3 separate regions of the Homo sapiens genome follow, and all the other regions are linked to region 1. The links come from fine-mapping of genetic effects on gene expression. A gene starts in region 1. Each other region holds a variant in brackets. All regions are shown on one strand. Distances are between the middles of the regions.

Region 1 (10,762 bases):
TATTCCCCAAGTTATCCTATAAATGCAATAAAATGCTAATTACCATTCATGAGTGTTTTTTAGTAAAACTCGACAAGCTAATTCTAAAATGTACAGGGAAATAGGAATAGCCAAGACAATTTTAAAAAGTAAAATAAAAGAGCAAATTGGAGAGATTGTCCTTCCAAATATGAAGACTTATAAAGCTATAGTAACTAAGATAGTATGAAATTGAGACAAGAAAGGCAGAGAAGTCAGAGCTAGACTACACATACAAGAAAGCCTCATGTTGACAGATGAGGCACTGCTGAGCAGTCATTAAAGGACGGCCTATCAATAATTGGTACTGGGATAATTTGTAATACATTTGGGTGGAATAACTCAATATTGTAACTTGATTCTACCCAAATTATTCTATAAATTTAATCCAATTTTAATTAAGATTCTAATAGGAATATGCAGGCATATTTTTCTTAAAGAATACACATATGCACACACACACCCATATATGCATACACACCCCCCCAAACTGTAAAGGAAAAGACTGATAAATTTAGCTATGTTAAAATTTAAAATGTCTTTACAATAAAAGTAAATATAAATAAAATATGGTGGGGTGTGATGGTTCACGCCTGTAATCCCAGCACTTTGGGAGGCCAAGGTGGGTGGAGCTCAGGAGTTTGAGACCAGCCTGGCCAACATGGTGAAACTCCATCTCTACTAAATATACAAAAATTAGTCTGGTGTGGTGGCACACACCTGCAATCCCAGCTACTTGGGAGGCTGAGGCAGGACAATCACTTGAACCTGGGAGGCACAGATTGCATTGAGCTGAGACTGCACCACTGCACTCCTGCCTAGATGACAGAGCAAGACTCTGTCCAAAAAAATAAAAAATAAAAATAAGAAAAAATAAAAATATGTATACAAATAAAATAGACTAGCCAAAAATTGGAAGAATATACTTAATGTACATAAACAAATGATTGCTGTATAAAGTAAATAGAAATTCTACAATCAATAGTAAAAGATAAGCAACAAATAAAAAACTATACAAAACATAAAAACTGAGGATAAAAACAAAAAAACAATAAATATATTAAAAGATACTCAACCTCATTATTAACCAGGGAAATGAAAATTACAATAATAAAAGTCCATTGCAGCCATCATATTGGTAAAAATTTTAAGGACTGATCTAACAAAATGTTTACTACTTGGTCATTAAAATATCACATACACTCTCTCCTATAATCTCTACTGGATCAAATAAAAAATCTAAATAGCAAAGAGTAAAAATATTGCACTTTCAGGATGCAGTGGTAAATTAATCAGTTTCTATGATTTCATTATTAAGAAGAAATGATAAAATGTTAAACCAACTGTCCAATTAATAAAGTTAGAGAAAAGATCAAACAAACAGGAAAACAGAAAAAACAAAATAATGAAAAATAATGCACAATCTAGTAACTGCCACATAGACAAACAAAACTGATAAATCCAAAGATAGTTGGAAGGAGAGGGGAAAACCAATAATAAAATCATACAATCAATTATAAAAGCTGAAAATTTCACTATAAAAAAGAAAAACTCAAAAGAATAAAATTAGGAATGAAAGAAGGGATATATCTGAATGCTTTTTAATCCTAATGAGGTAAACTGGCTTCTTAGTAAATAAAAATTGCCAAAACAGACTTAAGTATTAATATTACAAGCAAGAATAAACCAAACGAGTGTTATTAAAGAACTATCTCAAAAAATAGTTCTAGGGCCAATGAATATTACTGAAAAGTGCAGTCAGACTTTTACAGACAGTATTTTCCATGCTATATAAACTGTTCAAGGACTGAAATGCTATCCAACCCATTTGAGACAGCTAGCAATAATCCTGATATAAAATAAACATGGCAGAGTTTGTAAAAATAAAGATAAATCTCAGATTATTAAAGGTGCATTATTAATCAGATGTGTCTATTCTACTGGAAAAGAATAAATCTATCTGGGTGAGTTAAGTGAGTTAATAGAAATAAGAATGCATGAAGTTGATGGATTCACGGGAATATGTATAAGCCATCAAGACCTTGTGATGAAAAGTCAAAATTAGGAGAGGGAATACATCAAATATTTACATTCTTGCAACCACAAAAAATGAAGTGAGCAAAAAGCACAGAAAGACATCACTAAATGAGACTAAAAGAGGTTGAAAGGGCAATAACAAATGCTGGAGAAGATATGGAGAAAAGGGAACCCTTGTACACTGTTGGTGGAAATGTAAATTAGTACCACCACTATGGAGAACAGTTTGGAGGTTCCTCAAAAAATTAAAAATAGAGCTACCATGGGAGTCAGCAATCCCACTCCTAGGTATATACTCAAAAGAAAGGAAATCAGTATATTGAAGAGATATCTGCACTCCCATGTTTATTGCAACACTATTCACAATAGCCAAGATTTGGAAGCAACCTAAATGTTCATCAACAGATGAATGGATAAAGAAAATGTGGTACATATACACCACAGAGTGCTATCCAGCCATAAAAAAAGAATGAGAGCTTGCATTTTGCAACAACATGGATGAAAATGAAGGTCATTATGTTAAGTAAAGTAAGCCAAGTACAGAAAGACCAACTTTGCATGTTCTCACTTATTTGTGGGAGCTGCAAATTAAAGCAATTGAGACCAGGCACAGTGGCTCACGCCTGTAATCCCAGCACTTTGAAAGGCCAAGGCAAGCTGATCAGTTGAGCCCAGGATCTCAAGACCCACCTGGGCAACATAATGAGAGCCTGTCTCTACTTTAAAAAATAAATAAATAAAACAATTGAACTCATGGAGATAGAAAGTAGAAGGATGGCTACTAAAAGCTGTGAAGAGTAGTGGGGGCAGGTGGGGGAGGAGAGTGGGGATGGTTAATGCAGACAAAAAACAGTAAGAAAGAATGAATAAGACCTAGTCTTTGCTAGCACAACAGGGTGACTATAGTCAAAAATAATTTAATTGTACATTTTAAAATAACTAAAAGAGTATAATTGCATTGTTTGTAACACGAAGGATGAATGCTTCAGTGGATGTATGCTCTATTTACTCTGATGGGATTATTACACATTGCATGCCTATATCAAAATAATCTCATGTAACCCATAAATATATACACCTACGATGTACTCACAAAATTTTTTTTTAATTTTTAAGAGGTTGAAATGCATTTATATCACTCCTGGGGCCTTTCAGTAGCCTCCTACCCCAAGTTGATGATAATAATATCATTAGAAAAACAGCATATGCAAATGAAGTCAGTGGTAAATGAGAGATGGAGTCACATGGGTTCAAGCTGTCTTGAATCACTCTCTGAGACTATCACCATGGTGGCACCCACTCATAAGGGCTTTTAGTAGAACAGAGTCCATAGACAACTATCACACTAGTTAAGGCTGGTGGATCATATGGAATACATAAACAAAATTGGTGATGAAATGTTACACCAATGATGAAACTGTGCATAGGGTTTAGAGGGTGTGGGGAAGGGGAAATAGGAGAGGGAAAGATTTACAGAGGAAGTGATGTTTGCACAGAATCTGTTTCTGCTCATCTGCTTCAATTTCACCTCAGAGTTGTTCTGTCTTTAACCTTCATCCTAGTTTCTGTTTGGTTGGTTATTAGTATGTTGTTTGATTGATTGTTTAAAGAAGGCGTTATAATTTGCTTACTATTTCCCAATGCCAATATATTTCTGTAGAGTTTTATTACTTATTTTTGTGAGCATTGTACTCACATGAAAAAGAAAAATGTATCTTCTTAGGACTGATTCTTACAAATTTGAAATAGCTATAGTTTATAACTTACATGGCCAAGCCCTGCTAGAAGTATCTTGCAAAGGGTTTGACACAGAAGCTTGGCCAAGCTGTGAAAAATCTCTCAAAGTAGTTAACACACTTCTTGAGTATTACTGGAAACTTGATAAACTAAGAAGAGAATTTTGACCAGGTATCACAAGAAATTTGTACTGGGGACTTCTAAGAATAAGCGTGTACTATTTCACAGTCAACTAGAAGAAGGCATTAGGACATTAGGGCTATTTTCTCAATATCTTGTTGATTAATAGTTCTTCCCTTTGCAGACAGAGTAGAAAATTTCACCAAGTAAAGATTTTAGCCCTGCTTTAGTTTAATTCATCTCATATTCCTTTATTTCTATTCTTCCTCCCACATCTTTCCTTCTCAGGTCTGGTTCCCTATATGCGGAGCTTCAACCCCCAGAGGATATTTAACCTTGTCTCCCCCTCCACACTGCTGCATTCCCCACCACATCTCTTTCCCTCTCTTTCCATCCACCTGAAGAGATGAGAGCATATACAGAAAGTAGCTCCCAGCTGTAGCTCAACCATTAAACACCAAGAGAAAGGAAAATGAACTCTGCCAGACTTAGATCAATTAGAAGATTCCTTTGTAACCTAAATACATTTTTAAAAGCTTATCATCAAATTATGCAGTCATTTGCAGTTTGAGGTAAAACAACTCCTTCATTTTCATGGCCCTCTCCCCTATTCAAGATGACATCAACTGCATATTAGTTTTACCTTGTATGCATTTCTCAATAGTAAAACCATTAGTCAGTAGCATCTGAATGTACATTGATACAGTGGGTGTTTTGTGGTAATTATAAGGTAATTACTTCCTATCCTTAAATAATTGTCATTTCCACAAACAAACAAAATAGGATAAACAACAATACAGCATACATAAAACAACTGCCATCTCCCTAAGACACCAGAATAGCCTGTTAATCAAGGAAAGCTAAATTTATTAAATCTACTACAGTAAGGGAGGCCACACTTTGACAGAAGCTTGGCAGTCTCAGAAGGAGAAGGTTGGGGGTGATATTTATAGGATTTGGGGAGTCTGAGCAAAAATGGTTTAAAACAGGTCTTTTGAGGCAGGGAACTGTTTGGGGGATTGGGTAAAGTGTTTGACCTAATAGTTTAGGGTCGGTGCTAGAGTGACCAATTTTACTGATTTCCTAGGACTTTCTCAATTTTAGCACTAAAAATCCTCCAACTGGAGAATCCTTACAGTCCTGGGCAAACTGGGACCATTGGTCACCCTAATTAGCAGACATACCGTCGCAAGACTGCTGGGTAATTTGAACAGTAGTACCAGAGCAACTGACAAAACATTGTAGCCCATCTTCCCAAGGCTGGATACAAAGTTTTCTGAAGCATTCACATTTACAGCCTCTATTTGACAAAATACTGCATGCCTATGTGCGTTCAACTCACATAATAATGAAACTTAACTTTAAAAATGTTTTTATTGCAGTAAGGTATATAAAACATGAATTCGACAGTTTAACTATTTCTATGCATACAAGTGAGTGGTATTAATTACATTCACAATGTTAAGCGACCATCATCACTTAATTTTTTTAAAGGACGTTTATATTCACTCATCTATCAACGTAGTAGGCACTGTCCTAGGCGCTAGGGATTCCATGCAGAGCAAAAAACGTCACAGTCCATGCCTTCACATGGCCTTCATGGACCACCGCGGGTGTTCTTTTTCCCCCGAGTCTTTATGTACTTGGGAAAAGTGGCCAGGGTTGAAAGGTGCAATGAGTACACGGCAGAGGTCAGAGAGGTTCCCACTCAGCCCGGCGTCTGGAAGCAGCGTGGGGTAGGGGCCGCTCCAGTACCCCCTCCTCCAGTGTCGAAGGTGGGCAGGCCCTCGGCCGGGTGGATGAGCCGCGACTGGAGGGGGCGGGGCCTGGGCGGGAGGCGGGCGGTGGGCGTGTCCGGGGCGGGGCTGTACCGGGCGCTGGGCGGAGGAGCCTTGGCTGGGGACTGCCTGGAAACGGGCTGGGCCTGCCTCGGACGCCGCCGGTGTCGCGGATTCTCTTTCCGCCCGCTCCATGGCGGTGGATGCCTGACTGGAAGCCCGAGTGGGATGCGGCTGACGCGGAAGCGGCTCTGCTCGTTTCTTATCGCCCTGTACTGCCTATTCTCCCTCTACGCTGCCTACCACGTCTTCTTCGGGCGCCGCCGCCAGGCGCCGGCCGGGTCCCCGCGGGGCCTCAGGAAGGGGGCGGCCCCCGCGCGGGAGAGACGCGGCCGAGGTAGGACTGGGTCGGCGGCTTCCTTCCGGCTCTGCGCTCCTGGCTGGGGCTGCTGGGCGGCTGGGGCCGGGTCCCCGCACCCGGCTCTCAAGTCCGGGATTACCCGCAGGGCCTGAGAAGCGCTTTGCCCCCTACAGCCTCTCGAGCCAGCCCTTGGCTCGGAATTGGAGAATGGTCCTCATTCTTACCCAGATCTCACACGCCGTCCCCGCTCCCGATCCCAGGGGGTGACAGGCGCGCACGCCTTTCAAACACGTGTTAAAATCCAAGACGTCGTCTCAAATGCCAGAGATTTGCGGGAATGCTCCTGGAAGGCCTCAAAATCGCCGCAAGGTTTAAGACATCCGTTTCCATGTTGAAACAAAGCCCTCTCTAATCCTGCAGTGACCATAAGGCAGACTTTACCTCCAAATTCTGGTCCCCTGTCCTGTGTTTTAACTTGTGTTAAGATCAGACTCGGCTTTCTCTTTCCCTTTATTCAGAATTTTGCACGATAGTATCTAAGACTGGTGAACACTACACTCTGAAGTCAGTTTTTTGTGCATAGGTTACCTGTATACAATGGATAAAAATAATTGCAAAAGTTAAGCTTGTAACTTGATACATATTATCCTGTTATTTTTAAAGGTTTTGTGTTGGGGAAGAGAATTTTCCTGTCTCAAGGTAGCATTTTATTTCTAAGACTTTTCAGAGTAAAAAAAGTTCAGTAAAAAAATTGCTGATTTTCTTTTTTGTTTTCATTGTGTATTACCAGTTTAAATTCAGTTGCTGTACCTCTCAGAAATTAAAGTTAGGATGAAATTAGAACTAACACTTAATTTAAATGATTTGAATTTACCTACAACTGCAATAATACCTTACTGGTAAACACTTACTCTTTTTAAAACAGAACAGTCCACTTTGGAAAGTGAAGAATGGAATCCTTGGGAAGGAGATGAAAAAAATGAGCAACAACACAGATTTAAAACTAGCCTTCAAATATTAGATAAATCCACGAAAGGAAAAACAGATCTCAGTGTACAAATCTGGGGCAAAGCTGCCATTGGTAAGTTAATACGTAGAAGGAAGACATGTAAAAAGCATTATAAAATGTATTTTATTGATATGAAATTCATTTTAATATAATTTATTTCATAATTTGTTAATTAAGGCATCATGATATATTTTTTCGCTTTTTGTCAATAATTCCTTTCTCCTTCCAATTAGACAACATCTGTTTGTAAATGTACACACATACATATTCCACTGTTGGTCTTTAGCAGAGCACAGCTTCATTTATTGATACATTGAGTAGGCTGTATAGTGTCATTAGATTGCAATGCATATGTCAACTGAATTTTCATGAATCTGTGTATTTTTTGGACACTTGATACACAAGTATAAGATGTGGCCCCTGCCCTTGATGGCCAAACACATTTGGGAAACACTGAAGAGTACAAAGTTAAACAAGGTTCTTCATTGCAGGCCTTTCTCAAGAGCCTTTAATATGACAATGTTCATTGTATCAGCGAAGGAATATATTATAGTATGTAGTTGATTAAACTTGATTGACCACAGAAGCATTTTTGCTGTGAATATCATGAGAGTGTAGTGTTCTAAGATATATATTATGCTCAATTAGAGAATGGGGCCCTGAGGGTTTAAAGAGTCACAAAGAATTTAGTGACTTAGAAAGCGCTTTATGTGGCCTTTGAACATGAGTTGGGTTTATGTACAATAAGGCATATGGATAGAAAGTACCAGATGAGAGGAAAATGTACAGAGCATAGTGCTCTGCTCATGGTATTTCATAAATTCGTTCATACTTACATACAAGTATATATCCTAGAAGATTACTACCAACCTCTAAATTTCAAGTACCTGAAACCAGGCCTTCAATCATCAAGTTCTAGCCATTATTTTTTAAATAAAGTCTCTAATATTGATTTCTTCTTTTAAATCTCAGATTTTCATTTCCAGACTTCTCTCTTTTCAATCTGATAAGTGCAAAGTGGCCAAGTGAATTTCATCAAATGCTACCTTTTTTTTTTAACACCTCTGCTAGCAGGAAAAATGCTACTTTGATCAGCCTATTCTCTAGACACAGTTATAAAATACCGTTATAGAAATTCCCATTCAAAAGGGGAGAAAAATTGAAGTAAAAAAGTGTCACTGGTCCAAGCAATTTTGAAATCTAAATTTCATCTAAATGGCCAGCTCCATTAGATGATATTGCAGGCCTAGGAATAATCTATAGGTTGTACAGCTTTGCCCTCTGGCATCTCAGCCACACTCTTGAAGTCATCTTTTCCTTTTTCATAAAAAGTAGCACAAGTTTGCAGCTTCGTAATTTTATCAGCCTGTTGACAGCTGGTAAAATTTTCAGAGCCCATCAGCCTTCTTTCATTGTGACCTCTTGCTGTCTTTTTTAGTCCAAGCTGGCAGCGTTTCTGCTCATAAAACATTCTGAAGAACCTTGTGGGCCCTCTGTGTATGTCACAGGATTCACTCCATTAGATGGGAAGCTCCTCTGCAGATCTTTTCTGAGTAATCCCATCTCCATTTCTGGCTTCTGCTGAGATGGCTGAGGAGACCTGTAAGTCACATGTATAATCTCTTCAAAGAGCCCTTTGTGTGAATGAATATTCAGATCTTCTGATCCTTCTGAGGCACTAGCAAAAGGTTGTGCAGCCACATCCTTGGTCTTGTTTCTGGAACACCCTTTTCAGGCAGCAAATCTAATTTTTCACATCTTTTGCAATCTTAATGGTCCGAGAATTTCCCAAATCATCAAATTCTGGTTCCCTTTTGCTTAACAGTTTTTCCTTCTATCTCTTTTTTCTTATATTTCACTAATCACCAAGAAACCAGTCCACACCTTTCACTTTGCTTGGAACCCTCCAGCTAATTATTAAAGTTTATCACAAGTTCTGCTTTCCATGTAACTGCAGGATACAATCCAACTAAGCTTTTTACTGTTATATAACAAGGATCCTCATCCTTCCAGTTTCTAATAACACATTCCTGATTTTCTTCTGAGCCCTCACCAGCAATTTCTTTAATACGCATATTCTAGGCATGGCGTCTCACGCCCGTAATCCCAGCACTTTGGGAGGCTGAGGCCGGTGGATCACTTGAGGCCAGGAGTTCAAGACCAGCCTGGCCATCATGGTGAAACCCCGTCTGTACCAAAAATACAAAAATTAGCCAGACATTGTGGCACGTGCCTGTAATCCCAGCTACTCAGGAGGCTGAGGCAGGAGAATTGCTTGAACCCGGGAGGTGGAGGTTGCAGTGAGCCGAGATCATGCCACCTTACTCCAGCCTGGGCGACAGAGCGAGACTCTGTCTCAAAAAAAAAAAACATTGCATATTCTTACCAACAATCTGCTTGTGATCATTTAGATATCCTCTAAGACAATACAGGTTTTCTCTACTCTACCTCACTTTCTTGAGTCTTCACTAGCTGAGTCATTAACATCCATATTTCTATCTGCAGGTTATTCAAGGCAATCTAATCTAGGCTTTTTAAAATCATGTCCTCACAGTTCTCTCAGCCTTTCCCCATTACCCAATTTCAGAGACACTTCCACATTTTTAAGTATTTGTTACAGTAGCACCTCATTTCCAGGTACCATAATCTTAACTGTATAATCCATAGCATCCTATTGCAGCCATAACAAATTACCACAAATGCAGTATCCTACCTTTCTGAAGGCAGAACTCTAAAATGTGTGGGGTCTGTGTTACTTTTTGAGGCTCTAGAGGAGAACCTGTTTCCTTACCGTTTAGAGTTTCTAGCGGCTACCCGTATTCCTTCATTTATGGCCCCACATCACTCTGACCTCTGCTTCTATCTTTATATATCCCTTGCCTCACTCTGACACTCCTGCCTCCCTTGTGTGAGGACTCTTGAGATTACATAGGGCCCACCTAGATAATCTATAATAATCTCTTCACCTCAGCATCCTTAACTTAATCATATTTTTAAAGTGTCTTTTGCCATGTAAGGTAACATATTCATAGATTCTAAAGATTAGAATATGGACATCTTTGCTGGTGGGGCAGAGGGACATTATTCAACCCATCACATTTGGAAAGCGTTATCTAATTGGCCACATTTTAAACGTGGTGGCTTGCGTTTCCTTTAGTACCAGGGTACAATGAGAATGGAACAAAAACCTCTTTGAGTGTAACCAAAACAGGGTGCCCAGAGGTGGTGTATGGTCTCCATAGTGCCTCATTGAGTAACACTGCTCTCCTCTACTCTCAGAGCTTTCATTCAGGTGAAATCATGATAAAACATCAGGGGCTGCCATAAGGAGAAAAGATGCAATGACATTTGTCTGTGAGGGGATCATGCATTCAGGGATATGTGTTCAAGTGAGGAGGAGGTAATATCCCCTTGACATATTGAATGTATTAATATATGTACATACATGAGCTCCTCTGGCTCCATTTGGCACAAAATGGCAACTCCCCCAATCTGTTATAAAAGCAGTTCTAACCACATAGTATAGTTTACTTTGTAATATAATACATTTCATTTCAGAATAAGACAGGTGGTAAAGATCCATATAAATTAGGGGTTTCTCAAATCTAGAGTAGGAGAGGTCTTTAATATTAACTCACATTTTGCCACATTTTACACACTAACAGCTTCTGAGCTCTGTCTCTCATTAGCTGCCATGTTGAT
Region 2 (10,762 bases), 37 kb before region 1:
ATTTTCTTCAAATCTGCTTAGAAATTAAGAAGAAAAGTCAGAAACATTGCATCTCTAAAAGATTGCTTTATTCCTTCATCTGCCTCTATTAACCAAGGAAAATTTGAAAGATAGGGAGAGGGAGAGAAAGTGATACAGGAGCTAGAAAGAAATTATTAAGGCAGATAGTGAGGGAAAGAGAGTCCTTGGCAAGGTTTCTCTTTTAATGCAAAAGCAACCCCCAAATCATTTCTTTTCTAACAAAGAGCAGCCTGAAAAATCAAGCTGCAAGCATAGAAAAGCAAGCTAGAAGCTCGCACGGGTGAATGCTGGCAGCTGTGCCAACAGGAAAAGGCTACAATGGGAGCCAGGCATGTTCAACATGGAGGCTGCATCTTCCCTTTTGTCAACCACGTGTACAGTAAAGAAGCAGGCAACATGGCATTAGCCAGGTAGGGAACCCATTTGTATAATAAAAGATTAGGGTGGGGCGGCCAGTTTCTTCGTGTGCTATGCAAACAGCACACCTGGTCCGACCAATATCTCAGGCCCTATGTAAAGCAGACACCGCATCCTCAAGCTCGTCTATAAAACCCCGTGCATTTCACCACAAAACTGGAAGACCCACTCGGAAACCCATCTCTCTCTGCAGGAGACAGAGCTTTTCTCTTTTCTCTTTCTTTCACCTATTAAGCCTCTTCTCTTAAACTCACTCCTTGTGTTTGTCAGCGTCTTCGATTTCCTTGGCATTAGACAATGAACCTCAAGTTTTATCCCACACAAACGATGCCATTTCAAAAGGACAAAGGTTCTTTTCTTCAGGGTCATGGCACAAGAGATAGAGCCCCACTACCACCCCTCCTCACTTACACCCTAAGAGTCTCTCCCAGGTGCTCACAAGGCAGAGAACAGGTAGGAGCGGTGCCCACTCAGACCCCAAAGTGGAGAGGTCACAGAAGCTGCTCCACTTGGGGCAGTTCGCTGACTGCTTTCATCCCCGCTGTGGCTGCAGCTGGACTCCATTCCAGCCCCAAGGGAATGTTTTGCTTCAGAGACTTCTCATCTGCATTCCCTTGCCTGAAATACTCTTTCCTCAGATTCCTCAGCCTCCAAGTCTTTGCTTAAATATCACAATCTTGTTGATTTAGGCCTCCTCTGAGCCCCCTATTTCAAAATGTCAGTCCCTTACCGTATTTCCTCCTTGTCTCTCTTTCCTACTTTATTTTTCACCATAGCACTTACCGTCATCTGCCCCGGATGTCTTCCAGCCCCAGCCCCATATTCACTTGCCACCGTCTCAGCCCTGCCACGTGTACCAGGAGGCTGACCGGATGCTCTCCATCAACAAGCTCTGCTGTCCTTCCGCTTCCTGTCGGGTTTGACCAATAAAAGGCAGCAGAACGAGATCCAAGGAGGGAAGAGAAAGAGGTTGGGAATTTATTCTCCCAGCTCCGCTCCTGCCAAGTCCCGGTGTGTTAGCTGCCTCCCTCTTTTTTTTTTTTTTTTTTTTTTTTGAGATGGAGCCTTGCTCTGTCGCCCAGGCTGGAGGCGGTGGCGTGATCTCGGCTCACTGCAACCTCTGCCTTCCGGGTTCAAGTGATTCTCCTACCTCAGCCTCCTGAGTAGCTGGGACTACAGGCGCGTGCCACCATGCCCAGCTAATTATTTTTGTGCCTTTTTTTTTTTTTTTTTAGCAGAGACGGGGTTTCACCATGCTGGCCAGGCTGGTCTTGAACTCCTGACCTCAGGTGATCCATCTGCCTTGGACTCCCAAAGTTCTAGGATTACAGGTGTAAGCCACCATGGCCAGCTGGTTGCCTCCCTTTTGTGAGGACCACACTCCCTATCAAGCAGCTCTCTCCCTTCAGCTCCCTTCTCTGAGTAACTTCTCCCTCTCCTTACTTTCAGGTGTTAAGAGCTCCTCCCTGTTACTAGCTCCAGGGCATAGCATATCCCTTGTGCTTTAAGCACTGTTTTATTAATTACTAACCTTTATTAAGCTCTTTATTAACTACATTAAGTTAATTAGACTCTTCTCACCATTTTGACAATGACCTTTACTTTCCAAACTGCTGCATCATCTGGCATCTTACGTATTTTACTTAATTACTTGTTTTCTCCCTCCGCTAAAACATAGGCTTCATGAAGTCAAGATTTGTCCCTTTTGCATACTACTGTATTCCCAGCACCTACGAGAGAACAGGGAACATAGTAGGAGATGCGAAAGAAGCACTGGATAAATAACTGAATCATGAGTGAACGTATGACTTAGGAAGGGACATAGAAAGTCTAACTCCCCATCTTCTCTGTATGCTGGATCTCTGCCTTTTCAGATGGTGTCTTCTGTTTCTTTCCTTCCTCTGTTTTGTTACTCTTTTAATTTTTAATTTTTGTAGGTACATAGGTGTACATATTTATGGGGTACATGAGATATTTTGACACAGGCATGCAATGTGTAATAATCACATCAGGGAAATGGAGTACTCATCCCCTGAAGCATTTATCCTTTGTGTTACAATCCAGTTTTACTCTTTTATTTTTAAATGTACAATAAATTATTATTGACTATAGTCACCCTGTTGTGCTATCGAATGCTAGATCTTCTTCATTCTAATAATATTTTGTACGCTTTTTCAAAATTTTGGTTAGTGTGGATAACAAATATTTCTCTGGGCATTATTTCAGCTCCCAATTTATACTTAACATTTTTACATAACATCATCTGGCAACATTTTAGAGAATTCACATATATAAACCCATGTAATTATAATCTGGCATCACTTCCTACTTCAAAATGTTCATAAATAGCATTGCTGAGGCAGAGGTAGAATCATTTTAAAACAAAACAAAAAAAAGAGCAGTCCAACAGCAAGTGAAAGATCACCACCAAACCTAACTTCATGGACAATAGCAAGCAAACCTGAAGTGTAGGTTCCAATATTCTATTTAGAAATATCAGCTAGAATATAAACCTCATGAGAGAAGGCTTTGTCTGTTTTGTCTGCTGATGTAGTCCAAGCACTAAGAGCAATATCCAGTATATATTTGGTACTCAATAAGTGTTGAATTCATGAATGAATGAACTAATGTCACCCTGAAATAAGGAACTATTTTGAAGTGACAATAGATTAGATAATTGTTTCCAACTCCTTGCTCCCTGTTTGATTTTGGGGTTTTCTTTTCCTTTGGTTTGGTTTTTGTTTGAGACAGAGTCACACTCTGTCATCTAGGCTGAAGTGCAGTGGCACAATCTCAGCTCACTGCAAACTCTGCCTCCCAGGCTCAACCGATTCTCGTGCCTCAGCCTCCAGAGTAGCGAGATTATAGGTGTGTACCACCACGCCCAGCTAATTTCTGTATTTTTAGTAGAGATGGGGTTTCACCATGTTGACCAGGCTGGTTTTGAACTCCTGACCTCAAGTGATCCACCTGCCTCGGCCTCCCAATGTGCTGGGATTACAGGTGTGAGCCACCACGCCCAGCCCCTCTTTGTAATAGAATATCCCACCCCCGCCCTTTGTCGTGTAAGGTGGTCACTATGAAAGGAGTATTTCTCTTCACCTCCTTGATTTTGGGGGTTGGCCATGTGATATTATGACACACGTTGGCCAACAGGATGTGAGCAGAAGTAGCAATGTGCCAATTCTGCACAAAAACTTTAAGCACAATTGCTTGATTCATCACAGCTTGCTGTTCCCATCTTCTGCCATGATAGAACAGCATGTGCAGTGAGAGGTGGCTCTTTCGACCAAGTCCCAAACTAAGAAGAGAAGACACATAGAGCCAGCCCTCAGTCATCTGCAGCCTGAAGCCACATGTATTGTGAAAATAAATACATTTAGCTTGTTTTTCTGCAGCGTTACCACAGCAAAAACTGACTCAATTACTGGTACCTAGAAGTGAGGTGTTGATGGAACAAAAACCATGTAGGTAGGGGAGGGGGCAAGGAAAGTGTTACAGGAAACAGAAAAATGGCAACTCATTATGTCATGACAAAACATTTGGTAAAATGATCACATATATCATTTTCTTGCCTGAGGTAACCTTTTGTGGTAAGGCTGTCAGGCTATTGCAGCCATTTTTATACGAGTGAGCCCTTCGTGATGTCATTTTTAGGGCAACTTGATTTTCTGTCTCTGGAAGTACTATTTCATGAGTATATGCAAAATAGTGATACTATAGTATGTGATTTAGGAACTAGTCTCTCATTTGCATTGGAAGTAGAGATATGATAATCTTCCATCCCATGAAGGCATTTTTAATCCTCACAAAATTCATTGTTGTACCATATCCTAGAACCAATTCAGTGTAACAGGTATTTCCATGGATTTGAAGATACTGAATATATAATTGTCTCTTTAAATTCTCTTTCAGGGTATGTAGTGAATTTTGAGACATTTACTTTTGATTTCTGCCAGATGGTAATGTTTCAGAATATCGCACTGAGGAGCTTGTTAGAACAGTAATATTAGTAAATATAAGATCACAACGGCCTCATATGCCAGCTTTGTCGTGCAGTCTCTTATGGAATTTTCAACATTTTGTCTGCTTCCTTGATTTTCTATCTTCAGCATAAGCTTATTTGAAGATAGAGAAGCTAGCAAGTCACAGTTATTTTCCTCTGCATGTGATGGGATTTTCTTAATCTAATTTTGTCATGAAATATGATACTGTATGAAGGATTTGTTTCAGTCATTTTCCACAAGAAGTTTGTATTTCTGACTCATAACTTTGCTCTCTATGCTTTCTCAATCATCATCCTTGGTAATCTTGTGAGATTTTAGACACCTTGGATTTATATTTCCTAAATCTTTTCAGAACTACTTCAGGTCTTCAAATAGTCACATCTTGGCCTGGAATAAAGATATAGATGTAGATACAGAGACAGGTACAAGTATAGACAGGTACAGGTATATAGATGTGTAAATATCTATATACACATCTATTTTTATTTATATAATTTCTATTTATTTCTTTTTTCCTCTTTTAGCCCCATCCCTATCCCCCTTAACCTATCTCCCCATCCCCTACTCTCCTTTTATTCTCAAACTTTGTAAAGTTTACACAGGCTATTTTTGGGTTTTTTTCACCACTCCTCAATCTCACAACCTGGCTCTTATCCACATATCTGTCATGGAAATGGAGACTTATAAGTTCCTAATCACAAATCCAATGACCTTTGTTGTATGGAAGGGAGGCATGAAACATTTGATGATTTTGGCCACAGACACTGATACGGAGAATGAGGAATCTGGGGCAAACAAGCTTAAGGAACATGAGGTGGAGGAATGGAAACTCAATGTCAAGGCTTAATGACAAAAGGTGAATCCAAGGCAAATCCTACGGTAATAAAAGAAGCAAGAAATAAATGAAGATAAAGTCTAAGTCGAATATTGCTTCAGCTAGCTATTGCTGCATAATATCCAAAAATTTAGTGGC[C/T]TAAAACAATAATTTTATTACTTATGACTCTGTGGGTTAGAAATTCCAGCAGCGATCAGTTGAGGTGGTTCTTCTCCACTCCACATGGTGCTGTCTGAGACCCTCAACTAGGGCTGGAGGGTCCAAGATGGTCTTGCTCATCCATCTGGGGCTTTGGTGCTGGCTGTCAACCTGGATCCATTGTTTCCAGTCTGCATGGTCTCTCTCTTTACAAAGTCTCTTATTCTCTACAGAGAGCTATCAGGACTGGATGCAGACTGGAGTTTAAGTCTAATGGGTAACTAGATGAGGCTTTAGCAGGTAGAGAGAAGGAAAGGAGGTTGGGTATCTTTTGCCTATCGGAGAGACGTGAATTGTTGTGGCCAGAGGACACATTGTAGAAAATTGTCTGTAAAGACGGCCACCAACATGCATGTTGCCTCTCCCATCAAGAGGTAGAACCTATCTTTCTTCCCTTTGAATCTGGGCTCACTTGTGACTTGTTTTGGCCAAGAAAATGTAGCCGCAATACTCAGTGCCAGTTTGGGTCTGTCCTTTTAGAGACCTGGCAGCTTCCATTTTCATTGTGTTAGGATCCAGCCAGCATGGAAGCAAGAGTCGTGCTGTTAAATAATGGATTTCCAGGAGACAGAGAGAAAGAGATCCAGCCAGTCCTCAGCCATTCCAGTCACACTTAGCCTAGGTGCCATGTGAGTGAAGCCGTCTTGAATGTCGCAGCCCCAGCTGAGCTCTCAGCTGAATGCAACAGCATGTGTGACCCCAGCTGATACCACATGGAAGGGAGATGAGATATACCCAGTGAACCCCACCTAATTCCTAACCCACAGAATTATGAACAATAAAATTGTTGTTTTAAGCAGCTGTTTTTCGATACTTTGTGACAAAGAATCAAAGTTACATCAGTCTCTTCTTGGACTCCGGTGTCCTTCCTTATAGAATGCAATTTTAACAAGAATCCTGCCAAGTCCATTTAGCCAGAATTCCCCATCCTCAGTATCTGATCACCTTCGATACCTGATCATTTTCCTCCCCCTCCACCAGCACCCAGGTGATGTCTGATCAGCACTGCCTGCCTTTAGCAAGAATCCTGTTAGGTCAGTTCAGCCAGAATCTTCCCTTACCCCTGATGTTTCCAGTTAGTAATTTTCCACCCACTGAGCCCACCCTGCTTTTTCTAGATAGAAATGTCCACTTTTTTGTTGTTTGAGGTTGAGCACAATGTCTCTCCCCTACTGCAGGACCCCACTGTGCCATCCCTTCACCTACCAAGATGTTCTGAAAAATGTCTGCCTTACTGTGCTTTACCGAGTGTCACGAATAATTTTTTTCTTTGACATTTGTTAGGCAACAACAGATAATTTAAACAGATGTTCTCACTCTAGCCAAATGAACTGGAACTCCTGACAGGGCATCAGTTTGGTGAGAAAATAGAGTGCTAAGCAGAGAAAATGATGCAGAAGTTTACTCACATGGGTTTGGAGGGAATTCAAGGAAGGCTGGTAGCAGTCTTAATTTCTTCCACACTGAGGAATTAACTCTCAGCTAGGATGAAGAAGGAAGATGTCTTTCTAGCAGTTTGAGTCTTTGGTGTGCCCCTGCTTGTGTGCTGTGCTAACTGTGCTGGAATAGTCACTTGTTACACAGTTCTTAGTAAGCAGCAGGCAGATTACCATGAAGCTAATGAAGCTAACGTTCAGGTCCCCTCATTTCCACAGCCCCTTTCAAAACTTTGGAAGAGGTTTTAGCAATGTGTTCACCTAAACAAATACATCCTAAAATTCTGCAAAATGTCATGTTGAGTGGCATGGAAGTTACCACAAGAATTTTGCAGATCCAGTTAAGGGGAAATTAAATTCATCATATATTTAGTTTCTGTTCTAGAGAATATTTGTGTTTGGCAGTCACTGTCTTGCAGAAGCTATTTTTAGTCATTCAGTGTTGGACTGACCTCCAGGAACGCTCCAACCACTCATCATGAAAACTCACCAGCCATTGTAACATGAAGTTGCAGGCCAGAAATAATATCTTGATAGAGGCTTTCCCAAATTTGACAATAATCCTAAAAATGTGTATGACACTACTGATGAGTTGTAAAGCAGAGATAAACGTTTCCAAATGATTAATAAAAAACAAACTTCAATCAGCTATGCTAACTATTAAAATCTTTGTGTTATCTCAATAGTAAACTTTTTGTATGAAAATGCAATCAAAGAACATATAGCCAAAAAAGAAGGAAAAATTATAGAGGTACATTAGGCTCTTAGTTTTCTTAAGATAGCTTGCTACATTCTGTGTTTTTTTTGTGTGTGTAACTTGTTCTTTCATCACTTTAAATATATCTATTTCCACACTAAATTTTGTTTTCTTTCTCTTAAGGAGTTCTACAAAATTGTTTAAACTTTAGGCCTATAAAACTTGAATTGACCCCAATGACATATATTCATTTCTTTAATCCCAACTAGCAAGATGCTTTTATTAATGTCTTCATTTTAAAACTGAGAAAACTATGGGAGGGAGATATTAAGATCACAGAGACGGCCAGTGGTGTAACCTGGATTTAAAGCCAGCAGGTTGGCTTTTGAGCCTGTGTCTTACTCATTCTCCACCCTGCTGCCCTTGAGAATAAATGAAGTCCAGCCCTTTTCCTTAAGGAATGTGCAGTACAATAGTGGACCCTAAAAATTACAGTATATCAAGATATGTGCCAGATTAGTTATACAAGGTACAGAATTAGAAAGGAGAAATTAAATTTCTAGGATAGTAGGGGAGATTTCACAAAGAGATACCTTCTTGGTTACATTAAAGTTTAAATTTGAAATTATATTTAAACTCATGTACCTAAAATCACTGGCTCTGGTCACCAGGCAATGATTTCTAGTATTGAACTACTGTATATATTACCTCATCCCAGATTAAGTTGATTGAACAATAGTTTTCAAAAGCACCACAGAGATTCAAAGAATAAACTAAGGCTTTTGACAATGCTTTAACCCTCCCACCATTCCCACAAACATAACAGGAATGATGATAGAAATGAAAAGACCACAATTCAGAGGTCCATGTGCTTATCCAGGATGATACAAATCTGATGCAAAATTAATATAGGACTAGGTTTTGTTAATCCTAATGTAGTTTTCCATTCAGTGTTCTATATGTCCTAACCAAAACTTGGTTTTGTAGATTAAAATGATGTTTTAACAAGTCTCTCTGGTGGTTTTAGAAGTAGAAACCATGGGCAGGGCATAGTGGCTCATGCCTATAATCCTAGCACTTTGGGAGGCCAAGACTGACTGATCACTTGAGCCCAGGATTTCAAGACCAGCCCAGGAAACATGAAGAAACCCTGTCTCTACAAAAAATAGAAAAATTAGCCGGGCTTTGTGGCACGTGCCTGTAGTTCCACCTATTCAGGAGGCCGAGGTGAGAGGATCACCAGAGCCCAGGAGGTCAAGGCTGCAGTGAGCCGTGATCACACCACTGCACTCCAGCCAGGGTGACAGAGCAAGACTCTGTCTCAAAAAAAAAAAAAAAAAAAAAAAAAAGAGGAGGAAATAGAAACCTTGCTTTATAGGCTAAGGAATTCACCTTAGAATGAATCTCATGCTACAGAAAACAAATCTAGATGTTTTGCTTTAAAAAGGACAGAAAATAAGCTCCATTTTTCTATTAAAAAAAGTGACAAGTGAAGAGAGTTAATTTGATAAGTAACAGTATGATGGGAGAATAAATATAAATAGGATTCATTAGAAAAAAATTAAAATTTAATCAACTTTAATGGGCTCCTGTATAGTCCAAGCAGCTTAAGGCACTAGATTATTTCCTATGAAAAGATCTGAGAATAGGCAGTTCAACAAGTTGGAAATTTAATTTTTGAAATAACATTAAGCAAGGACCAAATATCCATGTTAATCAGTAGCATTTAGTTATAACTGGCTCAGTGATCAGACAATAAATTGCTTTGTAATACTAATTTGTTCGTGAGAAGATGGCATTAAATTTAAAGTAATTGATGGAAACAAACTGCTAAAAGAAAAATTATGAAAGACTCACAAAAAACAAAGGAGAGAGAGTTCTTCTCCAAAAGAACATTATTATGGTTTTCTCTCCTGGGGGTTGCCCTTACCTCATGTATTAGTTTGTTCTCACACTGCTAAAAAAGATATACCCAAAACTGAGTAATTTATAAAGGAAAGACGTTTAATTGACTCACAGTCTCACCTGCCTGGGGAGGCCTCACAATCATGGCAGAAGGCAAAGGAGGAGCAAAAGCACGACTCACGTGGCGGCAGGCAAAAGGGCGTGTGCGGAGGAACTCCTGTTTATAAAACCACCAGATCTCGCGAGACTTATTCACTACCATGAGAACAGTATAGGGGAAACCACCCCCGTGATTCAATTATCTCCACCTGGCCCCAACCTTGACACGTGGGGATTATTACAATTCAAGGTGAGATTCAGGTGTGGACACAGCCAAACCGTATCATCTCAACTCCACCCAGCCAATCTTACTCATTCTTCAAGTTCCAGTTCCAAAGCTAAGACTAATAATCATTCCCTGATGTCATTCTTCTTTTCTGTGCTCCTTCAGTACTGTTGTCTTTTGTTCTGTTTAATTTTGTTTGTATTTATCGCCCTCGCAATACTATGTGCCTTTAGTATATAACCGTGTGATACAGAGCGGAAAGGAATCCTCAATATCCTTTGGTTTAATGTTTTAGTAGCAGGGTCTAGCTGAGTCCAGGCTGTAAAACAGGATTAGGGTAGGATTAAGGTAGGACTATTTGGCTGGTGGTGCTAGGAACAGAGTGAATTTTTAAAAATTGAACAATTTCAAAATTTTTATTTCTCAGTGATTAGCTTTAAATTTACATTCCTATGCACATGGAGTTATGTCAGGAAACTCTTGTTTGTACCACCTCTTTCTGGCAGCCTGCAGGAAATGAAGTAGCATCATGGGCAGCATGTTAATCATTGATGATGAATGTGGCCTGGGATGAATTTGATTACAGGATTGCTGTGTACCATGTGACATGAGGGGCTCATAATAGGCTTAAAGATGATAAAAATATTTTTTGTTCTCTTAAATATCATAGAAATAACTGGAAACATTAATAGAAATACAGTTGGCTCTCCATATCCATAGGTTCCCCATCAGTAGATTCAACCAACCATGGATCAAAAATATTTAGGGGGAAAAAACTTCACAAAGTTCCAAAAGGCAAAATTTGAATTTGCCACACACTGAGGACTATGTTGAATCCACATGAATGAGGAGATGTGTACGCATTATATAAGTAATCTAGAGATTATTTAAAGTGTACAGGAGGATGTGTGTGGGTTATCT
Region 3 (10,762 bases), 29 kb after region 1:
AATCAAAAATTATCCGGGCATGGTGACATGGACTCCTGTATGGCGCCTCTAGTCCTAGCTACTCATGAGGTTGAGGTGGGAGGATCACTTAAGCCCAGGAGATTGAGCTGAGATTGTACCACTGCACTCTAGCCTGGGCAACAGAGTGAGATGAGACTGTCTCACCAAAAAAAAAAAAAAAAAAAAAAAAAAAAAAGATATAGTCTTTCTCCAGCTATAAAATGGAAAACATATATTTTTATCTTTCTGTTAATAGGATGTTTTTAATTAAGAGCAAGTTGACTTTAAGATAAGTTGCCACTAGTATATAAACCTCCTGAGAGCAGGGATTTTTGTCTCTTTTGTTCACTGTTCTATCCACAGAGCCTAAAACAGCACCTGCAGAGTAGGTATTCTGTATTTGTTGAGTGGATAAATTATGAAAAATCTCACTGACATGATTTTTGAATCATACATTCATTATTCATCATTCTGTCCCTGGTTGCGGGATGTGGCCTTAGACTGCTGCCTAGTTAGCGACACAGATGTCACTGGCACATCTGTGCCAGTAATGAGATGTATTCCCAAGCCTACTCCTATAACACCCTAACTCAGTAGGTTTGGGGTAAGGCCAGACAAAAAGGTTCTTGTTAAGTAAAGCCAGGTTTAAGACCCTCTTAAAAATCTATTTTTTGAGCAGAGCCTGCATTTGTAAAATGTTTTCATATAGTATAAGATGGAACCTCTTGGTAATCATGATGTTGTTGCACTAGGCCAGTATATTTCTTATATAGGTCTGTGGTTCTCAACCAGGGGCAATTTTGCCCACCGGGAGGCATTTGGCAGTGTCTGGAGACTTTTTTTTTTTTTTTTTTTTGAGACGAAGTCTTGCTCTGTCACCCCAGCTGGAGTTCAGTGGCACGATCTTGGCTCTCTGCAACCTCTGCCTCCCAGGTTCTAGCCATTCTCCTGCCTCAGCCTCCCAAGTAGCTGGGATTACAGGTGGGCATCACCACTCCTGGCTAATTTTGTATTTTTTATAGAGAGGGGGTTTCGCCATGTTGGCCAGGCTGGTCTCAAATTCCTGACCTCAAGTGATCTGCCTGCCTTGGACTCCCACAGTGCTGAGATTATAGGCATGAGCCACTGTGCCTGGCCTGGAGACGTTTTTGATTGTCACAACTGGAGGAAAGAGGTTGTCACAACTGGTATCTAGCAGATAGAGCCCAGGGATACAGCTGAACACCCCACAATGTATAGGACAGCCTCCACAAGAAAAAATTAACCCAAAATGTCAGTAATGCTGAGGCTAAGAAACCCTGTTATATACAAACTGTTAGGTAAAATTTTGTTCTCGTGTGAAAGTTACATTTCAGGTACACAGTTTAATCCCTGGTATTTCCAAATGCTCATAAAAATAGGTAACTTTTCCTGTATGGCATACCATGGTTTTATCTGTCAGTTTGTTTTAATCTACTTGAAAAGCCCTTGGGATTAATTTTTCAGAGCCCTTTGCAATAGCAAAATATATAATCTTTCCTTTTTTTTAATTGACAAATAGTAATGGTATATGATAATGGGGTACAAATGATGTTTTGAAATATATTTACAACGTAGAATGCTTAAATCAGACTAACAAATCCGTAACCTTATATACTTAACAATTTTTGTGGTAAAAACATAACATCTGCTGTTTTAGCAATTTTGAAATATACAGTGCATTATTATTTATTATAGTCACCCTATTCTGTGTGATAGATCACTAAAGCTTATTCCTCCTGTCCAACTGAAACTTCATACCCTTCGATCAACATCTTCCTTTTCCCCATCCATCTCCCTCCCCTGGAGTATTCTGTAATCTTTTCATCACCTGGTTAAAATGTTGCTTAAATCGTGATCATTATGAATAGAGAAGAGTCTTTATACTTTGAAGGTTTTGAATGTAACATGCCTAACAGCTGCAGATGAGTAATGCAAGTTAAAGAATGTCAAAAACAAATAACTTTAGGCACAACATCTCTGTAACACTTTTGTAAGAGATGTCAGTGTGAAATTCAATTTTTTTAAGTCAGTAGATTCAGGGAGTTTTCCAAAGTATTCATGGAAAATTACAATTTGAGATTTAGAAATCACATTTTAAACCTCTTCTGTATACTTCTTGCTACCTAAGAGATTGGGTTATGGGGAATTTTTGCCAATTCTATATCATATGTTAATTCATGTGTATTTATTTTTATAGATACAGGAATTTTCCTGTGGTGGAGGCAAGTTGGTCAATGCTGCATGATGAGAGGCCATATTTATGTAATTTCTTAGGAACGATTTATGAAAATTCATCCAGACAGGCACTAATGAACATTTTGAAAAAAGATGGGAACGATAAGCTTTGTTGGGTTTCAGCAAGAGAACAGTAAGTTCTATGCTTATTTAATTCATTCATTTTGTTCTCCAGTCTGAGAGTTGCTTTATGTAGAAACACAGGTTTCCAAAGAGGCATTGTTAACTCTATTTGTACCAATCTTTCCCCAGAAGATACATTAGTAATTAAAACTGTGAAAAGACTGGGTTGTACACATTTAGAATAGAGAGAACCGCCTATGACTGTAGTCCATCTTGAAGAGGAACACTGGTAACTGTCATTTGCAAATTTCAGTTGTTAGGGTTTCCTCAATAATATTTGTTAGTCACACAGGAGATTATAGATGCTAATGAGATACTTAGGTTCATCACTGAGATGTTGTGCAGTGGACCAATTCAGTGTTCCAAGACCGGTGTGCAGGTCTCACAAATTCAGGAATTCAGGAACCTGACACCATCTTCAGGACATGGACCTTGTATTCTTCTGTGAATCCCCAGATCTAACATAGGACCTTGCACAAAGTAGACCTAGGATAAATGGTGAGTGGATGAATGGTTGGATAGGGAGACTCAATAGGGTTAAATGTCTTCTTTTATGTAGTAACCAGGAAACAGGTGTTCATGTTGTGAAGGAAGTAAATTTGCAATCATTTATTTTGTTTTTAAATAGACAAATCAAGTTTTCAAATAAACAAAGCATAATGCAGAGTCATCAGGGAAGTAATGCCTTAAAAATGTCCAGTTAGGTCTGGAATTTTACTTTTTAAATTATAGCAGGTACTCTTTATTGCTAATGTAACCATATCATATTCGTTCAGTCAGTGTTTACCAAGCAATTGCTCTATGCCAGAAACTTGTTTACCCACAGTAAATACAGCAGTGAACAAAACAAAGTCCATGCCCTCCTGGCACTTAAATGCTTGTTGGAGTAGACAAGCAAGTAAAATATATTGTGTGTCAGAAGATGATAAATGCCCTGTAAAAAATTAAGCAGAAGAATGGCATAGAAAGAGCTTGGGTGTTGGTGGTGGAGCATTTGCTATTTTGGAATAGCCAAGAAAGGCATTCATTAGAAGGTTACATTTATGCACAGGCCTTAAGAATGTGCATGGGTGAGTCTTGTGTATATTTGGGAGAAGACTATTCCAGACGTAGGGAAGAGCAAAGGCCCTGAGGCAGGCAGGAATGTGCTTACTATGTTACAGGAACAACAGGGCCAGTATGTCTGGAGTGGAATGAATGAGGACAGTGTAAAATAACAAAGGTTATTATGGGAATAATTCTTGTAACTCCTCTCATACCATTGAGCCAGAGGTTTGAGTAGATGTTTTCCTTGTTTCTCATTGTTGCTTCTAGACTATTCTCCCCTTTCCCTCCCTAATAATCCCAATTTTGAAACTCATGTCAGCAGACAAAACCATCCATCACCCTTACTCTCTGAAATCATGCACTTACCCTTGGGTTTCTCCCCCTACTTCTTCGAAGAGTTTAGCTCCTGGTACTCTCTAGCTCTGTCTGACACTACTCTGTTCTCAATTCTTAGTGACTGGCAAATCTACATAGATGGTCTTTCTGTCATTTTGGTCTTTGCAGTTCCTTCACCTCCCCTCCTCCAATAATCTGGGCTTCCACCTGACCTCAGCCATTCTCTCTCATGGTTATTTCCTAGACTTTGTCATTACACATACTGCACCTTCTGAACATGATCTCAAGTCCCAGCATCTCTTTCTACAACCACCATCATCTGTCATTCCAGCTCATTCCGTGTAATAATCTGACTCTGACAATTCAGCTGGCACTTAGAATCTATTGTTCCTACTACCCTTTTGTTGTCCTTCACTCCCCTTTCTTCATTTTATTCTTCACCTAACTTAAATTTCATTGTCAATCATAATTGCCTATACCTTCAGCTCCCTAATTCCCTAATCTGGCAAACCATAACTCTGGTTAAATCCAGCTCTCTGCCTACTCCATGCCTGCACCCATGCAACTACACATAATTGGAGAAAGGTGCTAATTGACCTTTATTTAAACACGTGACTTTGAACCTCAGGTGCCCAGCAGTCTTATATTTCCCTTGTCCATATATTCTCCCACTCTCCTAGAAGGCTGTTTTATACCTTCTTCTCTCCTACACTCTAACACCTCCGCCTTTCTTACTTTATGACCCTATTGCTTATTTCACTGAGAATAGTCAGGAGAAAGCATCTATCTTTTTTTTTTTCTTTTGAGACTGAGTTTCACTCTTATTGCCCAGGCTGTAGTGCAGTGACAGGATCTCGGCTCACTGCAACCTCTACCTCCCAGGTTCAAGCGATTCTTCTGCCTCAGCCTCCCGTGTAGTTGGGATTACAGGTGCACGCCATCACGCCCGGCTAATTATTGTATTTAGTAGAGACGGGGTTTTACCTTGTTGGCCAGGTTGGTCTCGAACTCCTGACCTCAGGTGATCCACCCGCCTTGGCCTCATGAAGTGCTGGGATTACAGGCGTGAGCCACCGCACCCAGCCGCGTCTATCTTTCTTTACTGATCTTTCAGTTTCTACCCTTGCCCCTGTACAGTCCATTCTCAACACAATAGCCAGATTGATTCTGATGAAACCTACATCACGTCATGTCACCCCATGATCAAAAGCCTGCATGATAGAGTCCCGTGTGACCATTCAGACTTTATCTTCTGCGCCTGTTCCCTCAGTTACCCTACCTCAGCCACCCTGGCTTCCCCGCAGCTCCTTGAACATGCCAGGCACATGCTGTCTCATGGCCTTCACTCTTGCTTGCTCTTTTATCCCGCCAGATCTACGTGGCTTGCTCCTTCATCCCCAACTCTGTGCTCAGATGCTGCCGCAGTAAGACAGTCCCTCATCACTTATTTAAGATTGCAACCCTACCCCCTTAGAAACTCCTGCTCTACTTACTCCTTTGCTCTTTTCTCACAGTATTCTACCCCATCTAAATAATTTACTGACTTCACTTGGTCACTATCCATCTCCACCACTAGAACTAGAATATATGCTCCATGAGGGCAAGGTAGGGAAGAGAGGACCTAGCACTCCCAAAGTATCGGTTGAATTATTATTATCCATTCAGAAGTGTTACGGTGACTCCTAGATTTTATAAATGTACAACTGTAAAATGTTCCAATTCTTCAACATTTTTAAGAAATCTGTTTGGGCCAGGATTTTGGATATCTCTTATGCCTATCATCTCTATAAAGTTTCACCATTTCCTGAAACTGATTTTATTAAAAGATAAGGTATTTTTGTTCACAAACTATATACTTAGTAAAGTGAAAACTACAGTTGTTTTTCTGATTTTCTAGCTGGCAGCCTCAGGAAACAAATGAAAGTCTTAAGAATTACCAAGATGCCTTGCTTCAGAGTGATCTCACATTGTGCCCGGTCGGAGTAAACACAGAATGCTATCGAATCTATGAGGCTTGCTCCTATGGCTCCATTCCTGTGGTGGAAGACGTGATGACAGCTGGCAACTGTGGGAATACATCTGTGCACCACGGTGCTCCTCTGCAGTTACTCAAGTCCATGGGTGCTCCCTTTATCTTTATCAAGAACTGGAAGGAACTCCCTGCTGTTTTAGAAAAAGAGAAAACTATAATTTTACAAGAAAAAATTGAAAGAAGAAAAATGTTACTTCAGTGGTATCAGCACTTCAAGACAGAGCTTAAAATGAAATTTACTAATATTTTAGAAAGCTCATTTTTAATGAATAATAAAAGTTAATTATCTTTTTGAGCTAA[C/G]ATGTGATTTTTAAAATCATTTTGACTACTGGGTGTATAAATGTGTTTGTGTGTGTATGTATTTATAGATGTTCTTTAAGGTACCCTTGAAAACTCTACATTATGTATGCCACATAATGACATTTCAGTCAGTGGTAGACTACATATATGATAGTGGTCCCATAAGATTATAATGGAGCTGAAAAATTTCTATCGCCTAGTGATGTCATAGCCTAGTGATGACATATGTATTGCAATACATCACTCACGTGTTTGTGGTGATACTGGTGTAAACAAATCTATTGCACTGCCAGTCAAGTAAAAGTACAGCAATTATGTCCTGTACATAATATTTAATAATGACAATAAATGACTATGTTACTGGTTTATGTATTTACTATACTATACTTTTTACAATTTGTATTAGTTCTTGCATTGCTATGAATAAATGCCTGAGATTGAGTAATTTATAAAGAAGAGAGGTTTAATTGGCTCACAGTTCAACAGACTGTACGGGAAGCATGAAAACTTCAGGAAACTTAACAATCCTGGCAGAAAGCGAAGGGGAAGCAGACATGTCTTCACGTGGCCAGAGCAGAGGGAAAAGGGGGTGGGTGCTACACACTTTTAAACAACCAGATCTCACAAGCACTCACTACCAGGAAAGCAGCACCATAGGGGAAATCCACCTCCATGACCCAATCTCCTCCCACCAGGCCCTGCCTCCAACACTGGGGATTACAATTCAACATGAGGTTTGGGTGAGGCACAGATCCAAACCATATCATCATTATTTTCGAGTGTACTACTTGTACTTATTAAAAAAAAAAAAAAAGTTAAACAGCCTCAGGCAGATCCTTCAGGAGGTATCCAGAAGAAGAAGGCATTGCTATCAGGAGATGGCAGCTCCATGCCTATTATTGCCCCTGAAGGCCTTGTGGTGGGGTGAGATGTGGAGGTGGAAGACAGTGATGTTAATGATTCTTACTCTGTCTAGGCTTAGGCTAATGCGGTTGTGTCTTCATTTTTAACAAAAAGTAAGAAAATAAAAGTAACAAATTTTTTAAATTTTTAAATAGACTAAAGTTTATAAAATAAGGATATAAAAAATATTTTTGTACAGCAGTATAATGTTTTCAGCAGTGTTATTATAAAATAATCAAAAGGTTTAAAAAGTTATAAAGTAAAAATTTACAGTAAGCTAACATTAATTTATTCGTCAAGAAAGAAAAATATTTTCTTTTTTCTTTTTCTTTTTTTTTTTTTTTTTGAGACGAAGTTGTTCTTATTGCCCAGGCTGGAGTGCAGTGCCATGATCTCGGCTCACCGCAACCTCTGCCTCCCAGGTTCAAGCGATTCTCCTGCTTCAGCCTCCCAGGTAGCTGGGATAGCAGGCACCTGCCACCACGCCCAGCTAATTTTTTATATTTTTAGTAAAGACGGGGTTTCATCATGTTGGCCAGGCTGGTCTTGAACTCTTAACCTCAGGTGATCCATCTGCCTTGGCCTCCCAAAGTGGTGGGATTACAGGTGTGAGCTATCGCACTCAGCCAGAAAAATATTTTTTTATAAATTTAGTGTAGGTTAAATATACAGGGTTTATAAAGTCTACAGTAGTTTACAGTAATGTCCTAGGTCTTCACATTCACTCACCACTCACTCATTCACTCAGAGCAACTTCCAGGCCTGCAAGCTCCATTCATAAAAGCTCTACACAGATGTGCCATTTTAATATTTTATATCATATTTTTACTGTACCTTTTCTATGTTTAACTACACAAATACTTACATTTGTGTTACAATTGCCTATGGTATTCAGTACAGTGAAGTGCTATACATATAGGTTTGCATCCTAGGAGCCATAGCCTAGGTGTGTAGTAGGCTGTACTATTCAGGTTTGCATAAGTACACTCTATGATGTTTGCATGACAAAACCATGTAAGGATGTGTTTCTAAGGACATACCCCTGTCATTAAGCCATGCATGGCTATAGTTCTTTAGTATCTTCAGAAAGAATTAGAGTCCCGCTTGCTGTAAGTTGTCTGGCATATGACTTGGCATCTTCAGTGTGTCACAGGCCCTCAAATGGCTCTTTTAGCCCCACCTAGATGTCTTTTGGGCACTTAAACCACATAACTACAACTGTATTCGTTATTGTCTTTTTCCACAATATACACACACAAACCTATTTCCTCTCAAACATTTTTAATTTCAGTAAATGGTTTCATTAGCTGTTTCCCAAGCTACAATCTGTAACATCATATTTATTCCTCCCTATTCCGCCAATTAATCACCAAATTATGTGCCTTTTACCCCCAAGTCTTCCTAGAATAAGGCCTCTCCCTCCATCCCCACCACCTCTCCCTCATTTGCAGATTTTGTCTTGTCTCAGAGGGACAACCACAATAGTGTGTCTTCCCTGCCTCTCCAACTCTCAGCACTGCCTTAGTTTCATGGGTGCAAGTTAATCATTTCCAATTTCAACAAACTTTAAATCTGAAATGTCAAGTTCATTGAAGGAAAAATGCCATGAAGGAATAATAATAGGTCAGCCTCGGTGGCTTGTGCCTTGTAATGCTGGAGTTTTGAGAGGCCAGTGCAGGAAGATCACTTAAGGACAGGAGATCAAGACCAGCCTGGGTCACGTAGTGAGACCCATCTTTACAAAAAAACTTTAAATTAGTGAAGGGTTGTGGCATGCAGCTGTAGTTCCAGCTACCTGGGGGGCTGAAGCAGCAATGAGCTATGATCACACCACCGCACTCCAGCCTGGATGACAGAGTGAGATCCCGTATGAAAAAGGAAGAGGAAGAGGAAGAAGAAGAGGAGGAAGAGGAAGAGGGAGAAGGAGGAGAAGGAGAAGAGGAAGAAGAAAAGGAAGAAGAGGAGGAAGGAGGGGGAGGGGGGAGGAGAAGGAGGAAGACAAGGAGAGGAAGAGGAAGAGGAGGAAGAAGAAGAAGGAGGGGAAGGAGAGGAAGGAGAAGGAGAAGGAGACACACACACACATATTCCTAAAATAGAAATACTATCAGGTCACAATCAATTAAAGGCATCTGTGGCATTTTGTTGCCTATATCTTAAAATTACCTTTTTTTTTCTTTTTGAGACAGATACTCACTTTTTCGCCCAAGCTGGAGTACAGTAGTGGTGCAATCTTGGCTCACTGCAACCTCTACCTCCTGGGTTCAAGCAATTCTCCTGCCTCAGCCTCCTGAGTACCTGGGATTACAGGCATGCACCACCACGCCCGGATAATTTTGTATTTTTAGTAGAGATGGAGTTTTTACCACGTTGGCCAGGCTGGTCTCAAACTCCTGACCTCAAGTGATCCACCTGCCTTAGCCTCCCAAAGTGCTGGGATTACAGGCATGGGCCACTGCACCCAGCTAAAATTAACATTTTATAAATTGTTATTCCAAGATCCTTCACAATCTGACTCCAACCTATTTCTCCAGCCTTGTCTTCTTCTACCCCTCAACAAGTGCTCGAGTTTTCCCTCATTATCTGTTCAGTAAACATGCTCTCTTGGGTATACTTTTATATAAGCTTTTTTCTCTTTCTGAAAAAAAATGTGTCATTCATACCACGATTTCAGTAGCTAAATAACATTCATTTCATTCAGTTACTAGATATATTTCTTTGTTAGTTTACCTCCTTCCACTGTAATATAAAACTCTAGCAGAAAAGGAGCTTTGAACATTTTTTTCACCTTTATCATGTATAAGCCACAGTAATTTTGAGTCTCTAACAAAGTAATGGAATCTATAGCATAACAAATACATCTAAACATATTTTTTGAGATATTATATTCTAAAAGTATGTTTTAATCAGCATGGTGCCAGGAAGGTGTATCTACACTGTGAGTGAATTCTTATTTCACGACAGAGACTATGTTTTGTCCTAGAGGGAAAGAATGAATCAAACAACTCTCCCTTTTGATTATTTGTAACAATGAAGCTGAAGAACTTAAACAGCACCCTTGCTTTTCTTTAACACTCATACACTTAAATTGATGAAATCGGCCAGGCATGGTGACTCCCGCCTATAATCCCAGCAGTTTTAGAGGCCAAGGCGGGCAGATCACTTGAGCCCAGGAGTTTAAGACCAGCCTGGGCAACATGGTGAAACCTAGCTCTACAAAAATACTAAAGTTAACTGGGCATGGTGGCATATGCCCGCAGTCCCAACTACTCAGGAGGCTAAGATGGGAGGATCACTTGAGCCCAAGAGGTCGAGGCTGCAGTGAGCCATGATCACGCCACTGCACTTCACCCTAGGCAACAGAACAAGATCCTGTCTGAAAAAAATAAATTAATTAATAAATTCATGAAATCTTGTACTGTTTTTCAAATTTATATTTTATTTAGGCAATTTTTTAAATAATGTAATATTTTTTCAGGTGGTAAATTTCTACCACAAAAACAATTTGATGTTACTGAGATTAATTACAAATTGAAGAAACAATCAGGTGTTGTATAAAAAAATCTTACCTATGAGATATATTATTTGATCTACAAAATAATTTGAGATTTAAAGCTATAACTAGCAAGTAGAACTTCTGAAATATAAAGTTTAATACATTATCAATAGTTTCTAACATAAGACCTTCATAAATATAAAACAACAGCTTAAATGTCTATGAAAAATCAGTATTCACAAGCATCGCCAATTATTGATAGTCATTCATTA

What was found.
Region 2: its variant is fine-mapped to the expression of RXYLT1 in coronary artery (GTEx, PIP above 0.99). The same link has a PIP of 0.9 or more in tibial artery.
Region 3: its variant is fine-mapped to the expression of RXYLT1 in blood mononuclear cells (TOPMed, PIP above 0.99). The same link has a PIP of 0.9 or more in caudate and whole blood.

The regions. Positions count from the first base shown.
Region 1 is chr12:63,774,043-63,784,804 of GRCh38, forward strand. RXYLT1 (ribitol xylosyltransferase 1) reads left to right here and starts at 5,867. Exons shown (of 6, transcript NM_014254.3): 1 at 5,867-6,087; 2 at 6,977-7,132. The coding sequence starts at 5,919. RefSeq lists silencers at 5,686-5,915, 5,932-6,207, 5,936-6,235.
Region 2 is chr12:63,736,944-63,747,705 of GRCh38, forward strand. No RefSeq gene overlaps it. Among named protein-coding and RNA genes, the nearest start is that of RXYLT1, 38 kb to the right of the region's middle. The variant C/T (reference allele first, on the strand shown) is at 5,419.
Region 3 is chr12:63,803,016-63,813,777 of GRCh38, forward strand. RXYLT1 (ribitol xylosyltransferase 1) reads left to right here. Exons shown (of 6, transcript NM_014254.3): 5 at 2,219-2,389; 6 at 5,660-6,547. The coding sequence ends at 6,077. It overlaps RXYLT1-AS1 (RXYLT1 antisense RNA 1), which reads right to left. Exons shown (of 4, transcript NR_126167.1): 3 at 9,192-9,292; 4 at 5,830-5,925. Among named protein-coding and RNA genes, the nearest start is that of RXYLT1-AS1, 14 kb to the right of the region's middle. The variant C/G (reference allele first, on the strand shown) is at 6,095.